4 linked regions of the Homo sapiens genome follow. The protein of the gene in region 4 purifies or fractionates together with the protein of the main gene of each other region. This does not show direct contact. Each region holds a gene or a part of one and is shown on either strand. Other genes may lie near its edges.

What was found.
Region 1: the proteins of HIGD1A (region 4) and IPO13 purify together in Homo sapiens (affinity purification with mass spectrometry; 2 studies listed by BioGRID and IntAct, with this or other methods). This does not show direct contact.
Region 2: the proteins of HIGD1A (region 4) and TSC22D1 purify together in Homo sapiens (co-immunoprecipitation; one large-scale study listed by IntAct). This does not show direct contact.
Region 3: the proteins of HIGD1A (region 4) and USP32 purify together in Homo sapiens (co-immunoprecipitation; one large-scale study listed by IntAct). This does not show direct contact.

What each region holds. Positions count from the first base shown.
Region 1 is NC_000001.11:43,949,950-43,953,449, forward strand, and holds part of IPO13 (importin-13), read left to right. Parts: coding exon 1-204; intron 205-3,500. UniProt on the Homo sapiens protein: Functions in nuclear protein import as nuclear transport receptor. Serves as receptor for nuclear localization signals (NLS) in cargo substrates.
Region 2 is NC_000013.11:44,569,831-44,573,330, reverse strand, and holds part of TSC22D1 (TSC22 domain family protein 1), read left to right. Parts: coding exon 1-168; intron 169-3,500. UniProt on the Homo sapiens protein: Transcriptional repressor. Acts on the C-type natriuretic peptide (CNP) promoter. Acts to promote CASP3-mediated apoptosis.
Region 3 is NC_000017.11:60,182,634-60,186,133, reverse strand, and holds part of USP32 (ubiquitin carboxyl-terminal hydrolase 32), read left to right. Parts: intron 1-482; coding exon 483-674; intron 675-2,680; coding exon 2,681-2,969; intron 2,970-3,500. UniProt on the Homo sapiens protein: Deubiquitinase that can remove conjugated ubiquitin from target proteins, such as RAB7A and LAMTOR1.
Region 4 is NC_000003.12:42,794,491-42,797,990, forward strand, and holds part of HIGD1A (HIG1 domain family member 1A, mitochondrial), read right to left. Parts: intron 1-3,500. UniProt on the Homo sapiens protein: Proposed subunit of cytochrome c oxidase (COX, complex IV), which is the terminal component of the mitochondrial respiratory chain that catalyzes the reduction of oxygen to water. May play a role in the assembly of respiratory supercomplexes.

The sequences.
Region 1 (3,500 bases), on a different chromosome or scaffold from region 4:
GCAGCTGCTACAGCAGCCCAGCTCACCCAGCTGTGTGCGTCAGAAGGTGCTCAAGTGTTTCTCCAGCTGGGTGCAGCTGGAGGTGCCGCTGCAGGACTGTGAGGCGCTCATTCAGGCTGCCTTTGCTGCTCTGCAGGACTCGGAGCTCTTCGACAGCAGTGTGGAGGCCATTGTGAATGCCATCTCACAGCCTGATGCCCAGAGGTGAGCTAGTACCCACTCACCCAGAAGACAACCTCTTTGGCCAGCCACACATCCATCCATCCATCTGTTCAATAAACATTAATTGAATGTGTACTGATACCTGGTCCTATGCTGGAGATACAGCAAGGAACCAAAGAAGACATGGTCCCTGTCCTCATGGTTCAGACAGGGAGGCAGACATTAAACAACTAATTATCAGTTATTCAATTAAAATATTTGACTCTCTTTTCCTTCTCTCAACTAGTCACCAAGTCCTGGCTGTTCCCCTCCTGACCATATTGCAAATCTATTTTTTTCCATTTCCATTGCTACCACCTTAGTCCAAGCTGTCATCATCTCTCTCCCCAGATTACTGTAGAGCTTGTCCTCACTCTTGTACCCTTCATTGTCCCAGCAGCCACAGTGATCTTTTGAAAATGGGGATCTAATCTTTCTGATCAGAAGCTTTCAGTGGCTTCTCAATGCTCTTAGGTTAAAGCTCAGAATCCTTAATGTGACTCATAATGGTGCTGCACAGTATGGCATCACTGGCCTCATCTCATGCTACTCTCCTTGCTCTCTACACGCTCACACAGTTTCTTTAATTCCTTGAATGTCCCATGTTCCTTTCAGCCTCTGGCTCATTACATATACTTGACACCTTGCCTCAGCTTAAACTTCATTTCCATAGGGAAGTCCTCCATGGATTCTTAAGGCTAAGTTTGATCTTCTCTCTTATATTACCTCAGAGCTCCCAGTATTTTTCCTTCTTAGCCCATAACATGATTTCTCTCACCTCTGTGAGGACAGGGACTCTGTCATTTTACTTTGTCGCATTGTGCTCGGCACATGGTAGCATTTGATATTTTGTGAATGGAGGAAAGTAGGAGTTGCCTGAGTTGGGAGGGGTGGGGCTGGAAGGGATTGGGGGAGGAAGGTGGATTGTTCTAGGCTTTAGGAACCACAGCATGTGCAAAGACTTGTGGGCAGCATCATGATATATTCAAGGGCCCTAAAGAAGTGAGTGTAGTGAAGTGTTTGGCAAATGTTCATTGAGCATGTCCTGTTTTGGGCCCTGTGCTGAGCTCTGGGAGCACAGAGACAAATGCTTTAGCTTCAGTCTCAGGAGCTCACAGTCTAGTGGACACATGAGTGGCAAGTACAATCAACATGATGAATCCTCTGATGGAGAACGCAGGGGCCTTGAAGAACCCAGAGGAGGCTTTCACTGAGTCTGAGGGCTGTGAAAGGATTCGCAGAGGAAGTGACAACCCAGCTGTGTAAGAGTTAGCCAGATGGAAGTGATGGATGGGGAGGACATTCCAGCCCAAGCAAGGGAAGGGTGAAAGCCCAGAGGGTCTGGTGATCTGTAAATCATTAGATGTGATTAGACAGCAAGATTTAAGGGCCAGAGGTATAGGAGACCTGGGCCCAGATCATGCAGGACCTTGGCCAAGTTTAAGATTTTGATCTTCATCCTGAAGACGATATAAAGATATTAAAGGATTATAAGCAGAGAAAATGGCCTACTGAGACTTTTGGTATGAGCTGGATTAGAAGAAGTGAGACTGGAGGTCCTGATGCTGACATTTCAGAGATGGGGCTTTGGGACCTTTGGCAGAATTGGAAGGGAAAACCATTGAAAGAGACTTCATGGAAGAGTGGCTGATGACTCAAGCCTTGGCATTAGTCACATCTAAGTTTGAATCCCAGATGGTTCACTTATTAGATCTGAAATCTTGGATCAGCCATTCCTAAGGCTCCGTTTCCTCATCAATAAAATGGGGATGATCATATCAACCCCACAGAGTTGAAAAGGTTTAAACAGGATAATGTGCACAAGTCCTGCCCCTGGTGTTCGGTAGAGAATATTTTGACTCCTTGAGTAATGGGAGTTCTTTTGTGGTCTCTGCTAGGGTTGGGATGGTCAGTAGCATGCATTTGTACCTTTGGGTTATTGATACGTTACATGTTTTAAAATGGGAACTGTGTGTATATGTTCTACCTTTATACTTTATGTGATCAGTTAATGGTAATTGTTTATTTATTTATTTTGAGACAGAGTCTCACTCTGTCACCCAGGCTGGTGTGCAGTGGCACAATCTCGGCTCACTGCAACCTCCGCCTCCCGGGTTCAAGCGATTCTCTTGCCTCAGCCTCCAGAATAGCTGGGATTACAGGCGTGCATCACCACGCCCAGCTAATTTTTGTATTTTTAGTAGAAACGGGGTTTTGCCATGTTGGTCAGGCTGGTCTTGAACTCCTAACCTCAGGTGATCCATCTGCCTCCGCCTCCCAAAGTGCTGGGATTACAGGTATGAGCCACCATGCCTGGCCAACTGTTCATTTTTTTAAAGAGAAACATAGTTACTATTAAATGGATTAAGGCTGTTTACTTTTAGTACTGGTCATAAGAAGTAGAACTGGAATCATGCAATAGAAAGTGGGCCTAGTTGTTCAGTGGCTAAATTTGAAAAGGAGTTGGTTTCCTATATATATATGTGTGTGTATACATACATATATTTATATGTATATGATACACACACACACATAGATAATGTGCTTAATCACTGCCTTTTGAAACTTTAAATAAAATATTGGGTTGATTTTAAAAAATAAAAGATTGTTTCGGTATGAGGATTAAATAAGAGAATGTGAAGCTTTTAGCATGGTTCCTATATACTCTGTAAACGGCAGTTGCCAGTATTTGGTTTCATTATTGTGTTGGGAGTTATTATGATACTTATCCCCTGGCTTCCCAGGCTTTCCAGCTTAAGGTGGATACCTAATCCCAGATCTCTTGGCAGCCTGAAGCTCAAGTGCTGGGTGGGCTCTGACAGTTGGTGACTAAGGGAAACAGATCAGGGCAAGTGTGTGGGTGATGTGAGGTGTCCTTGGATACACCCAAGTTTACCCGCCCAGCCAGTCTCAAGGGCTTTGGCAGGTAATTGATGCCCCTTCTCCTCTGAACGAATGAGCGAGCAAGGAGCCAGTGAGGTAACCCACAGCCTCCTTGGTGCCCATTGGCTGCAGCCCCTTGGTTGCTTAGCAACTCTCCCCATTTTCTCAGCTCTGCTCCTGAAGCAAAGCTCTAATTGCAGGTCTGGGCTGAGCTCCGTGTGAGCAGCAGCAGAGGAGTCCCAGCAGCCCTGCCTCGGCTACTTGAACTGACCGATTGGAGCCAGGCCTCTTGAACCCAGCCTCAGCTGTGGTCATAAAGACATCCTCCCTGTCTCCTTCCCCCAAACCTAGAAACCTCTGGGACCTCAGACTTGTTCTTCTGTCCACTCACAGGTCGCAGACACAGGTGCTCAGGT
Region 2 (3,500 bases), on a different chromosome or scaffold from region 4:
TGCAGCGGAGCCCTCCTTAGTTGGCTTACCTCAGACTATCAGTGGTGACAGTGGGGGAATGTCAGCAGTTTCAGATGGGAGTAGCAGCAGCCTAGCAGCCTCTGCTTCTCTTTTCCCGTTGAAGGTGCTACCGCTGACGACACCCCTGGTGGATGGCGAGGATGAGAGGTAAGATCATGTCATATTTCTGGAGACATTCAACAGATTTGAAGTTAATCTATTTAGTAGCTATATGTATGCACAAAATGACTCTAAAACATTGTATATTGTGTTTTGTATGTGAAAAATGCATTTTTATGGGAAGTTTTATAGAGCAAGAGTTATGGAATGGTTTCAGAGGGAGTAGGAAATAATAGTAATATGTAAACAATATTTTCAGAATAGTTGTTGAGCATGTGTTCACATTAAAAACAGGTTTGGGGGCGCCAAGTGGTTTTATTATCTCTAAAATGCTTTTTAGAAATATTATGGAAAGCTTAATTTTTGCTAACCCACATAATAGTTAATCTATTTTGAGCTGCTAAAATAATCTCTTGGGGGGTTGTGGTTCCCACGTTTGTTCTCCTTTACTAGACATCCCTTTTTCATTTCTACTGTGTTTGATCTTAGTCTGTGAAAGATATTGTTGCCTACTTTTCCTAGTCAGATATGGTAGGAAAGATGACTTAATCTGGGTTATATAGGTTGCCCTCATACTCCAACTGACCAACTTTTGCGTACTTATTTAATGGTCATTTTATCTGAACAGTAAAGGAATGGGAATCTTATTTTGTGGGAAAGGAGGACATAAACTATCAAAATAACCAGACTTATCTTGATAGTATGCTGAACATTTTTTCTTTTGCATGGTAGATCAAGGTGGTAGCCATTTTAAAGAACAGAGAAAGTAAGTCTTGGAGGATTGAATTTATAGAGGCGTGAAAATAAGACCTTGGTCTCTGGCTAATCTACTCCACCTGTTCCTTTCTTTCCTTACCAAAAAGATACAGAAAGCCTAAAGTACATTATTAAACCAAGCGTTTTTTCACGTAGATTGGAAATAATATGCCAGTAACGCTTATTGAATCAAATTGTGTCTTTGAAGCTGACTGGCTAAAAAAGTTGTGAAATCTTTCATGTTGATTTTTAAAGTAATGTTCTTTTCACAAATTTTCCAGTCTGTTACTAACCTTGATTAAAATGCTATTATAGGAGTTATGAAAAGACATCATTTTCACGGTGGAATTTGGAGTAAGCGTGCAAGATATTTAATTATTTTAGTATTAGTTGGAGGGTTTTGTGATTGAACTTTCATCAAGCGAATTTAAGCATTTATATTCTATATGTATGTTTGTGGGTTTTGCTTTGGAAAAATTGAGCATATTGCAAAATAGTTGTAATTTTAGAAAAAGAAAACAGGTCAAATGTTTCAGTGAGGTTTGTGTTATTTAGTTGTTTAAAAGGTAAGATAAAGACATGGTTAAATTGATAAAATCTTATCTTTCAAGATTTTTATTATTTTTCTAATAGTCAGGTAATTAAAACCTTGTTACCTAACCAAATGTATTCTGTATTATTTGTACAAAACTGTACTCTAAAAGATAAACTTTTAGGAGGTAGTTTCCTTAATTGTTCCATTATTATTGTTAAACCTTTAATTTTATCATGCTAATACTCAACTAATTTTAAAAGAATTACCACAAATATTAATGTTTTTTAAGTCAAAAGGTTATGATTTGAGTGAAGCCTCTATAAAAACAGCTATATTATGTGGATGCTAAGTTTAGAGAAACAAAAGACGGGTAAAATACACAAACAAAAACACTCATTTTGAATTCAAACTTGCCATGATTTTGTAATTGCCATTTGTGGTCTCCTGGCTTGACTTTCACCTCTTTTTCCTCCTATTGGTAGGACATGATAGGATTTTCCACAGCTTGCCCTTCCAGGCAATTAAAGTCAGATGATGCTACTTTCAACTAGAGTTTTAACTATAGGAATAGGGTCCCAGTTTAAGATATTAATATAAAATTAATTTTTCCAGATAATAATTGAGAAAAGGAATAATAAGGTGGAAATTATGGAATTCTAGAAAGGGACAAAAAGACATACTGAGAAATAAGGAAATATAGCTCTAATACAAGTTGTCTTCAGACACTGTACACATTCAATTATAATTATGTTTAGCAGTCTCTCCCACAAGACCAGGAGTTCCTCAAGAGCAGGGACTGTTTTGAATTTACTACCTATTTGGGCCTTGGTTAGTTAACATCAAAGTTTCGTGATTAAAAACCAGAAAATTTTTGTTTTAGCGGTATCTTAAATTCTGTGAAATCGGAATGTAGCCCTAAAACACCTTGTAAGATCAGAAAAGATATATATTATATTCTTTATTGTGTTTTACTGAAGATTATTTATCACTACAGTTTGGAAAAAAGTTAATTTTCATTTAAATTTGCCCTTGGAAGATAATTTAAGAATAACTACAAGAGAAAACAGTGATATGATTAAAAAACAAACTTTTAAAACCTTTCTTCCCATGGTAGCTTCTGTTGTCACTTGCATCTTCTGGGCTTGGTCACCATTAGTCTCAGGAGAGAGGGAATACATATATAATTTCAATATTATGAATCAGGAAATGTGTTAACAATATAATTTGGGCAGTAGGACAGATGAGGATGGTTATCTTTTAATCATCTTTTGAAATAATACTCTTAACACTTTAGATTATAAAATGTTTAGACATGTGGAAAGTGCCTTCAGTTGATCACTGGGAGAGACTATAAACATGGATCAGGATGCTAAGATTATGTATCTTGTTTTAAAAAAAATCATTCTTATTTAAAAGGTCTTAATGTCAGGCCGTGTGCGGTGGCTCACACCTGTAATCCCAGCACTTTGGGAGGCTGAGGTGGGCAGATTGCTTGAGCCCAGAAATTTGAGACCAGCCTGGGCAACATGGCAAAACCCTGTCTCTACAAAAAAATACAAAAATTAGCCAGGCATGGTGGCGCATGCCTGTAGTTCCAGCTACCTGGAAGGCTGAGGTGGTAGGATCCCCTGAGCCCTGGAGGTCAAGGCTGCAGTGAGCTGGGATCATGCCACTGCACTCCAGCCTGGGTGGCAGACCAGGACCCTGTCTCTAAAAAAAAAAAAAAAAAAAGTCTTAATGTCTTAGACTGTAACATGAACTGTGAATTCACCTTTACAAGAATGGGAAAATACAGGTATTGCATCTTTTATGTTTTGTGATTGTTATTAGCACAGCCTCTTAACGTGAAATGGGTCAAACTTCTATTCATCCTTCAAGACTCAGCTCAGATGTTCTCTTTAAAGCATTCTTTTCACTCAGGGGACATTGTTTCCTTAGCACTTTTTAATATTCCTCTATTTAAGCACTGTACACATTCAATTATAATTATGTTTACCAATCTTTCCCACAAGACTAGATGTTCCTCAAGGGCAGGGATGAATTATTTTTTTGAATTAATTAGCAGGCATTTCTCCTGATTTTTTTTTTG
Region 3 (3,500 bases), on a different chromosome or scaffold from region 4:
TGTAACATTTGTGAATAAATATATAGGTGCTGTATTTGCTCAGACTCTAGTTTGGGTTGTGTTTTCTTTTCCCTTTTTTTTGAGACAGGGTCTCTCTCTGTCATCCAGGCTGGAGCGCAGTGGTGTAATCACAGTTCACTGCAACCTCTACCTCCCAGGCTCAAGCAATCCTCCTGAGTAGCTGGGACTACAGACATGTACCACAATGCCCAGCTAATTTTTAGATTTTTCTTTTACAGAGACAGGGTCTCACTCTTTTGACCAGGCTGGTTTCGAACTCCTGGACTCAAGCAATTACCCCACCTCGGCCTCCTAAAGTGCTGGGATTACAGGCATGAGCCACCATACCCAGCCAGTTGTATTTTCTTTTTCCTTATATAGAGTAAAATAAGGGTGAGTGACCAAGAGGTTGATGCATACCTAGATCACCACTTTAAATGCCTTCCCACGCACCCCTTTCCTCCTGTTCCCTCTACCTGCAGGTTGTAGATGAGCATGAGAGTGTGGAGCAGAGTCGGCGAGCGCAAGCCGAGCCCATCAACCTGGACAGCTGTCTCCGTGCTTTCACCAGTGAGGAAGAGCTAGGGGAAAATGAGATGTACTACTGTTCCAAGTGTAAGACCCACTGCTTAGCAACAAAGAAGCTGGATCTCTGGAGGCTTCCACCCATCCTGGTATGTTACAGTCCTGCCTCTGAGAGAGCAGGAATCTGGCATAAAAGAAAGAAGACATGAACAAACAGGAGGTTTTGTTATTTTTGAGAATAAGACCTTTCCTGCAGCAGTGTTTAAAACACTTTCTGTACAAGCTTTTTATGTTGAATACAGAGATGAATCTTTCTACAAATATTTTGTAGTTCTTTTTCCTAAAGAGCTTATAACCTAGAAGATCAATCATGTAGACCAGTAACTGCAATTCAGTGCAATGTGAGAACTGCCACAAGGGGTACAACGTGGTGAATTTGAACTTCAAGAGAGGTTAAACTTCTGGCTCTGTGGAGAGAGGAAGCTTAGGCTAACCCTTTGTGGACTCTAGAAGAGCAACTGAGCCTGGAGCCCCCAACACCCACTGCACATAATCATGTGGCTATGGCACACTACTGAGTTGAGTGTGTGTACACAAGCACACCAGTGCACTAGGGCCTGTGTGTTCTTTTAGATTTAATTTACTTCTGCCTTCTCCCTTCATGGATTAGGAGACTGTCCTGTTGTTTGTCAGGAGAATTTGAAGTGACAAATCTTCCTATTCATTAAGATCAGTGTAACTGTAAGGTACTGGCATATTTTAATTCAGATATTTATATGTTTTTTTTTTTTTTTTTTTTGAGACAGGGTCTCACTGTGTCACCCAGGCTGTAGTGCAGTGGTGTAATCTCAGCTCACCGCAACCTCCACCTCTCGGGCTCAAGTGATTCTCTTGCCTCAGTCTCCTGAGTAGCTGAGATTACAGGCATGCACCACTACCACCCGGCTAATTTTTGTACTTTTAGTAGATATGGGGTTTCACCATGTTGGCCAGGCTAGTCTTGAATTCCTGACCTCAGGTGATCTGCCCACCTTGGCCTCCCAAAGTGCTGGAATTACAGGCGTGAGCCACCGTGCCCAGCCATGTTTTCTTATTCTATTCATGTCTCTGTCATACTACTCTGTGAAGCTGAATGTAGGTTTTTCTTAGACCAGAACAGCTTCCCAGGGAATGATGCACAAGAAATTAATAACATTGGTTGTTAGCTAGCTCCACAGATAGGAACTAGAGGGAAGGGGCAGGCTTGGAGACAAGGTGGGTGGGGAGGAGGGGGAGACTTTTTTTTTTTTTTTTTGAGACGGAGTCTCACTCTGTCGCCCAGGCTGGAGTGCAGTGGCACCATCTCAGTTCACTGCAAGCCTCACCTCCTGGGTTCATGCCATTCTCCTGCCTCAGCCTCCTGAGTAGCTAGGACTACAGGCGCCCACCACCACGCCTGGCTAATTTTTTGTGTGTTTTTTATTTATTTATTTATTTATTTATTTTTAGTAGAGATGAGGTTTCACTGTGTTAGCCAGGATGGTCTCGATCTCCTGACCTCATGAGCCACCCGCCTTGGCCTCCCAAAGCGCGGGGTTTATAGGCGTGAGCCACTGCGCCCGGCTGACGGGTAGACCTTTTAAAAAAAATTGAGGTATAATTAGCATACAATTAAAAGCATAGATTTTTAATATCCAGTTTGATGAATTTTGACAAGTATATATTTTCATATAATCATCACATAAAACAAGCAGAGCAGTCATGTAGACCAGTAACTGCAATTCAGTGTGATGTGAGAACTGCCACAAGGGGTACAATGTGGTGAATTTGAACTTCAGGAGAGGGTGAACTTCTGGCTCTGTGGAGGGTGGAAGCTTAGGCTAAGCCTTTGTGGACTCTAGAAGAGCAACTGAGCCTGGAGGCAGTACCCACTGCGCAGTCACGTGGCTGTGCCACACTGCTGAGTTGAGTGTGTGTGCACAAGCACACCAGTGCACTGGGGCCTATGTAGAGGCCTTTATGAAACCATATTTTTGAAGTCTTTAAAAAATAATGAAGAGTAAATGTTCTGTTATATATTCCCAAACATTCACATGTATTTGACTTGTTTTTTCCATGTAAATTTTGTATCTTCAGAACCCTTTAATGCAGATGTTTTCTACCTTTACTTCTCCAGATTATTCACCTTAAGCGATTTCAATTTGTAAATGGTCGGTGGATAAAATCACAGAAAATTGTCAAATTTCCTCGGGAAAGTTTTGATCCAAGTGCTTTTTTGGTACCAAGAGACCCGGCTCTCTGCCAGCATAAACCACTCACACCCCAGGGGGATGAGCTCTCTGAGCCCAGGATTCTGGCAAGGGAGGTGAAGAAAGTGGATGCGCAGAGTTCGGCTGGGGAAGAGGACGTGCTCCTGAGCAAAAGCCCATCCTCACTCAGCGCTAACATCATCAGCAGCCCGAAAGGTGAGGCCTGGGGGCCTTATGCAGGTGCTTTCTTGGGACTCCTGTAGGCTACATATGTTTCTCTGTCTTCTGTTCTGGAACATCAGGTTGGTTGGGTGGAAAGAACCTATCTGGAATCAGACCTATCTGTATTTGAGCTATGTAAGTTTTAGCAAGAGGTTCAGCCTCCCTGAATCTATTTTCTCATCTGTAAAATGGAGATAATGCCAGGTTTACAGAGTTGAGAGTGACACATGGAGAGTAAAGCACTTCACACAGTGCCTGATATACGGTAAACAGGAATGGTAGCTGCTGTCTTGTCCCCTTATAGCAAAAGTTCTGAGGTTCCCCATCTTTCAGGGGGTCTAGAGGATCAAAACTCTTTTTTTTTTAATTTATTTTATTTTTTATTTTTTTGAGACAGGGTCTCACTCTGTCACCCAGGCTGGAGTGCAGTGGTGCAACACAGATCACAGCTCACTGCAGCCTCTACCTCCTGGGGTCAATCAATCCTCCCACCTCAGCCTCCTGAGTAGCTGGGACTACAGGCAT
Region 4 (3,500 bases):
CCGTTTCCCCTGTACAACCCATTCATTTTTAGCACCATGTTAATTAAAAATAGTGAAAAATTTTAAATTGATGTTACTTTTATCAATTAAAATAGTAGCTACTAATTTTCTGGCTATCTTCATCCTTAATCAACTATTTAACTTGACAATTTTAAGTTACTCAAACCAAACTGACAACTCCTATTGAACCTTCAATATCATGTTGGAAATCCTACTTAGCACTTTTCGGTGTAGTTAAATGCAGTCTTTATTGCTTTCAACTGCTGATTTATTTATTCCAATGTGCTTCCTTGCTTCAATTTTCACTTCAGATTAGTTTCCAGTCTATTACAGTAATCTGTTATCCATGGTGGTTGCCTCTGGGGAAAAGATTATTCTGAATAGCCAAAGTTTCTACCTAGCTCATTATTTACTCATTTTAAGAACAAAGCTTTTATTTTAAATATTGGTAGAAATGTCTCCTTCATAGCCTTTTAGATTTTTTTAATGACCTATGATTAGTTTTTTTTCTTTTTTGAGACTGAGTCTTGCTCTGTTGCCCAGGGTGGAGTGCAGTGGCACGATCTCGGCTCACTGCAACCTCCATTTGGCACACACCACCGTGCCTAATTTTTTTGTATTCTTTAGTAGAGACAGGGTTTCACTCCTGACCTCACGTGATCCACCCACCTCAGCCTCCCAAACTGCTGGGATTACAGGTGTGAGCCACTGTGCCAGCTTATGATTAGCTTTTTTTTTTTTTTTTGAGATGGAGTTTCGTTCTTGTTGCCCAGGCTGGAGTGCAATGGCGTAGTCTTGGTTCACTGCAACCTCTGCCTCCCAGGTTCAAGTGATTCTCCTGCCTCAGCCTCCCAAATACCTGGGATTAGAAGTGCCTGCCACCATGCCTGGCTAATTTTTTTTGTATTTTTAGTAGAGATGGGGTTTCACCATCTTGACCAGGCTGGTCTCGAACTCCTGACCTCAGGTGATCCACCTGCCTCCCAGTGTTGGGATTACAGGCATGAGCTACCACACCTGGCCCTATGATTAGCACCTTTTAACATCACTGCAGCACAAAACTGAATTACCCTCAGGGTCTTCTTAATATCTTCTAAGCTTCAGATCTGCCTTCATTTACATACCTTATATCCCCTAGGCTTCCTTTTAAAACTCTACCCTCTTTTTATAATTCCTTTAAATGGTATCCCAAAGGCAAGATCTAGCCTGATAGTGTATGAGTAAGGGGATAGGAAAAAAAAAAAAAGGATTCATTTTCATTATCACAGGGATCAAAGGCTCCTTTCCTCCTTTTCAGTCATCTCCGTGAATAGCCCTTTTATCACAATGAGGCATTAACAAATGCTATTTCATTTTAGCCACAATAACAAAGTATACTTTCTTCACTGAACTATTTTGAATTGCAATAAACTTTACTCACAGATAAAATAAGGGCCTGAAGCATAGTGTAAGCATACAAGTCTCTAATTAGTGTCAATTACAATAAACTTAAAAGTCTATGCCCATCCTAACACCCATATAAAATCTTACTTTCACTTCTGGGTTTTTCATGTGCATTATGCTCCCTTTGATAAAAGTACCTCTCATTCAACACCTTGCTACTCAAGGGGAGTCAGTGGCAGTTAAGGTCCTCAACAAAAATGCAACTCCGGAGGGGGTGGTGTGCTTAGTTTAGAAAGTGAATTCATCCCTATAAGCCTCACCTTCATTGAGAAGACTCAACTGTCATCTGACATAGAAGAAAATCTTAGCTAAATAAAAGAAAATTTAGATTGGACTTAAACCTTCTTTTTGTACTCCATTACTTCTTAACTGAATAAACTCCTAAGTAATGAGCTTTATTATATATAAGGTTCAATAAGCTCAAGGTTCAAGATACTCACTATATATCTGAATAATACAATATAAACACTAAAGTAATTAATCGTTCAAAAATTAGTTGTTGTTTTTTTTTTTAAAAAAAAAAGAGAAATCATGTAACCGCCAAACAGGTTCACCTTGCCCGCTGGCTAGACAGAGCTGATTTACCAAGACAGGGGAATTGCAATAGAGAAAGAGCAATTCACCCAAAGCCAGCTGTGTGGGAGACCAGGATTTTTATTATTAGTCAAATCAGTCTCTTGGAGCATTCAGGGATCAGTTTTTAAGGATAATTTGGTGGGTGGGGGAAGGCCAGAGAACAGAGTGCTGATTGGTTGGGTTGGAGATGAAATGGGAAGTTGAAGCTGTCCTCTTGTGCTGAGTCAGTTCCTAGGTAGGGGACATAAGATCAGACGAGCCAGTTTATTGATCTGGGTGGTGCCAGTTGGTCTATCAAGTGCAGGGTCTGCAAAATATCTCAAGCACTGATCTTAGGAGCATTTTAGGGAGGGTTAGAATCTTATAACTTCCGTCCCTCTCCCTCTCCCTCTCCCTCTCCGTCTCCCTCTCCGTCTCCCTCTCCCTCTCCCTCCTTCTCCGTCTCCGTCTCCGTCTCCGTCTCCGTCTCCCTCTCCCCACGGTCTCCCTCTCATGCGGAGCCGAAGCTGGACTGTACTGCTGCCATCTCGGCTCACTGCAACCTCCCTGCCTGATTCTCCTGCCTCAGCCTGCCGAGTGCCTGCGATTGCAGGCACGCGCCGCCACGCCTGACTGGTTTTGGTGGAGACGGGGTTTCGCTGTGTTGGCCGGGCCGGTCTCCAGCCCCTAACCGCGAGTGATCCGCCAACCTCGGCCTCCCGAGGTGCCGGGATTGCAGACGGAGTCTCGTTCACTCAGTGCTCAGTGGTGCCCAGGCTGGAGTGCAGTGGCGTGATCTCGGCTCACTACAACCTCCACCTCCCAGCCGCCTGCCTTGGCCTCCCAAAGTGCCGAGATTGCAGCCTCTGCCCGGCCGCCACCCCGTCTGGGAAGTGAGGAGTGTCTCTGCCTGGCCGCCCATCGTCTGGGATGTGAGGAGCCCCTCTGCCCGGCCGCCCAGTCTGGGAAGTGAGGAGCGTCTCCGCCCGGCCGCCATCCCATCTAGGAAGTGAGGAGCGCCTCTTCCCAGCCGCCATCACATCTAGGAAGTGAGGAGCGTCTCTGCCCGGCCGCCCATCGTCTGAGATGTGGGGAGCGCCTCTGCCCCACCGCCCCATCTGGGATGTGAGGAGCGCCTCTGCCCGGCCGAGACCCCGTCTGGGAGGTGAGGAGCGTCTCTGCCCGGCCGCCCCGTCTGAGAAGTGAGGAGACCCTCTGCCTGGCAACCACCCCGTCTGAGAAGTGAGGAGCCCCTCCGCCCGGCAGCTGCCCCGTCTGAGAAGTGAGGAGCCTCTCCGCCCAGCAGCCACCCCATCTGGGAAGTGAGGAGCATCTCCGCCCGGCAGCCACCCCGTCCGGGAGGGAGGTGAGGGGGGGTCAGCCCCCCGCCCGGCCAGCCGCCCCATCCGGGAGGGAGGTGGGGGGTCAGCCCCCCGCCCGGCCAGCCGTGCCATCCGGGAGGGAGGTGGGGGGGTCAGCCCCCCGCCCGGCCAGCCGCCCGG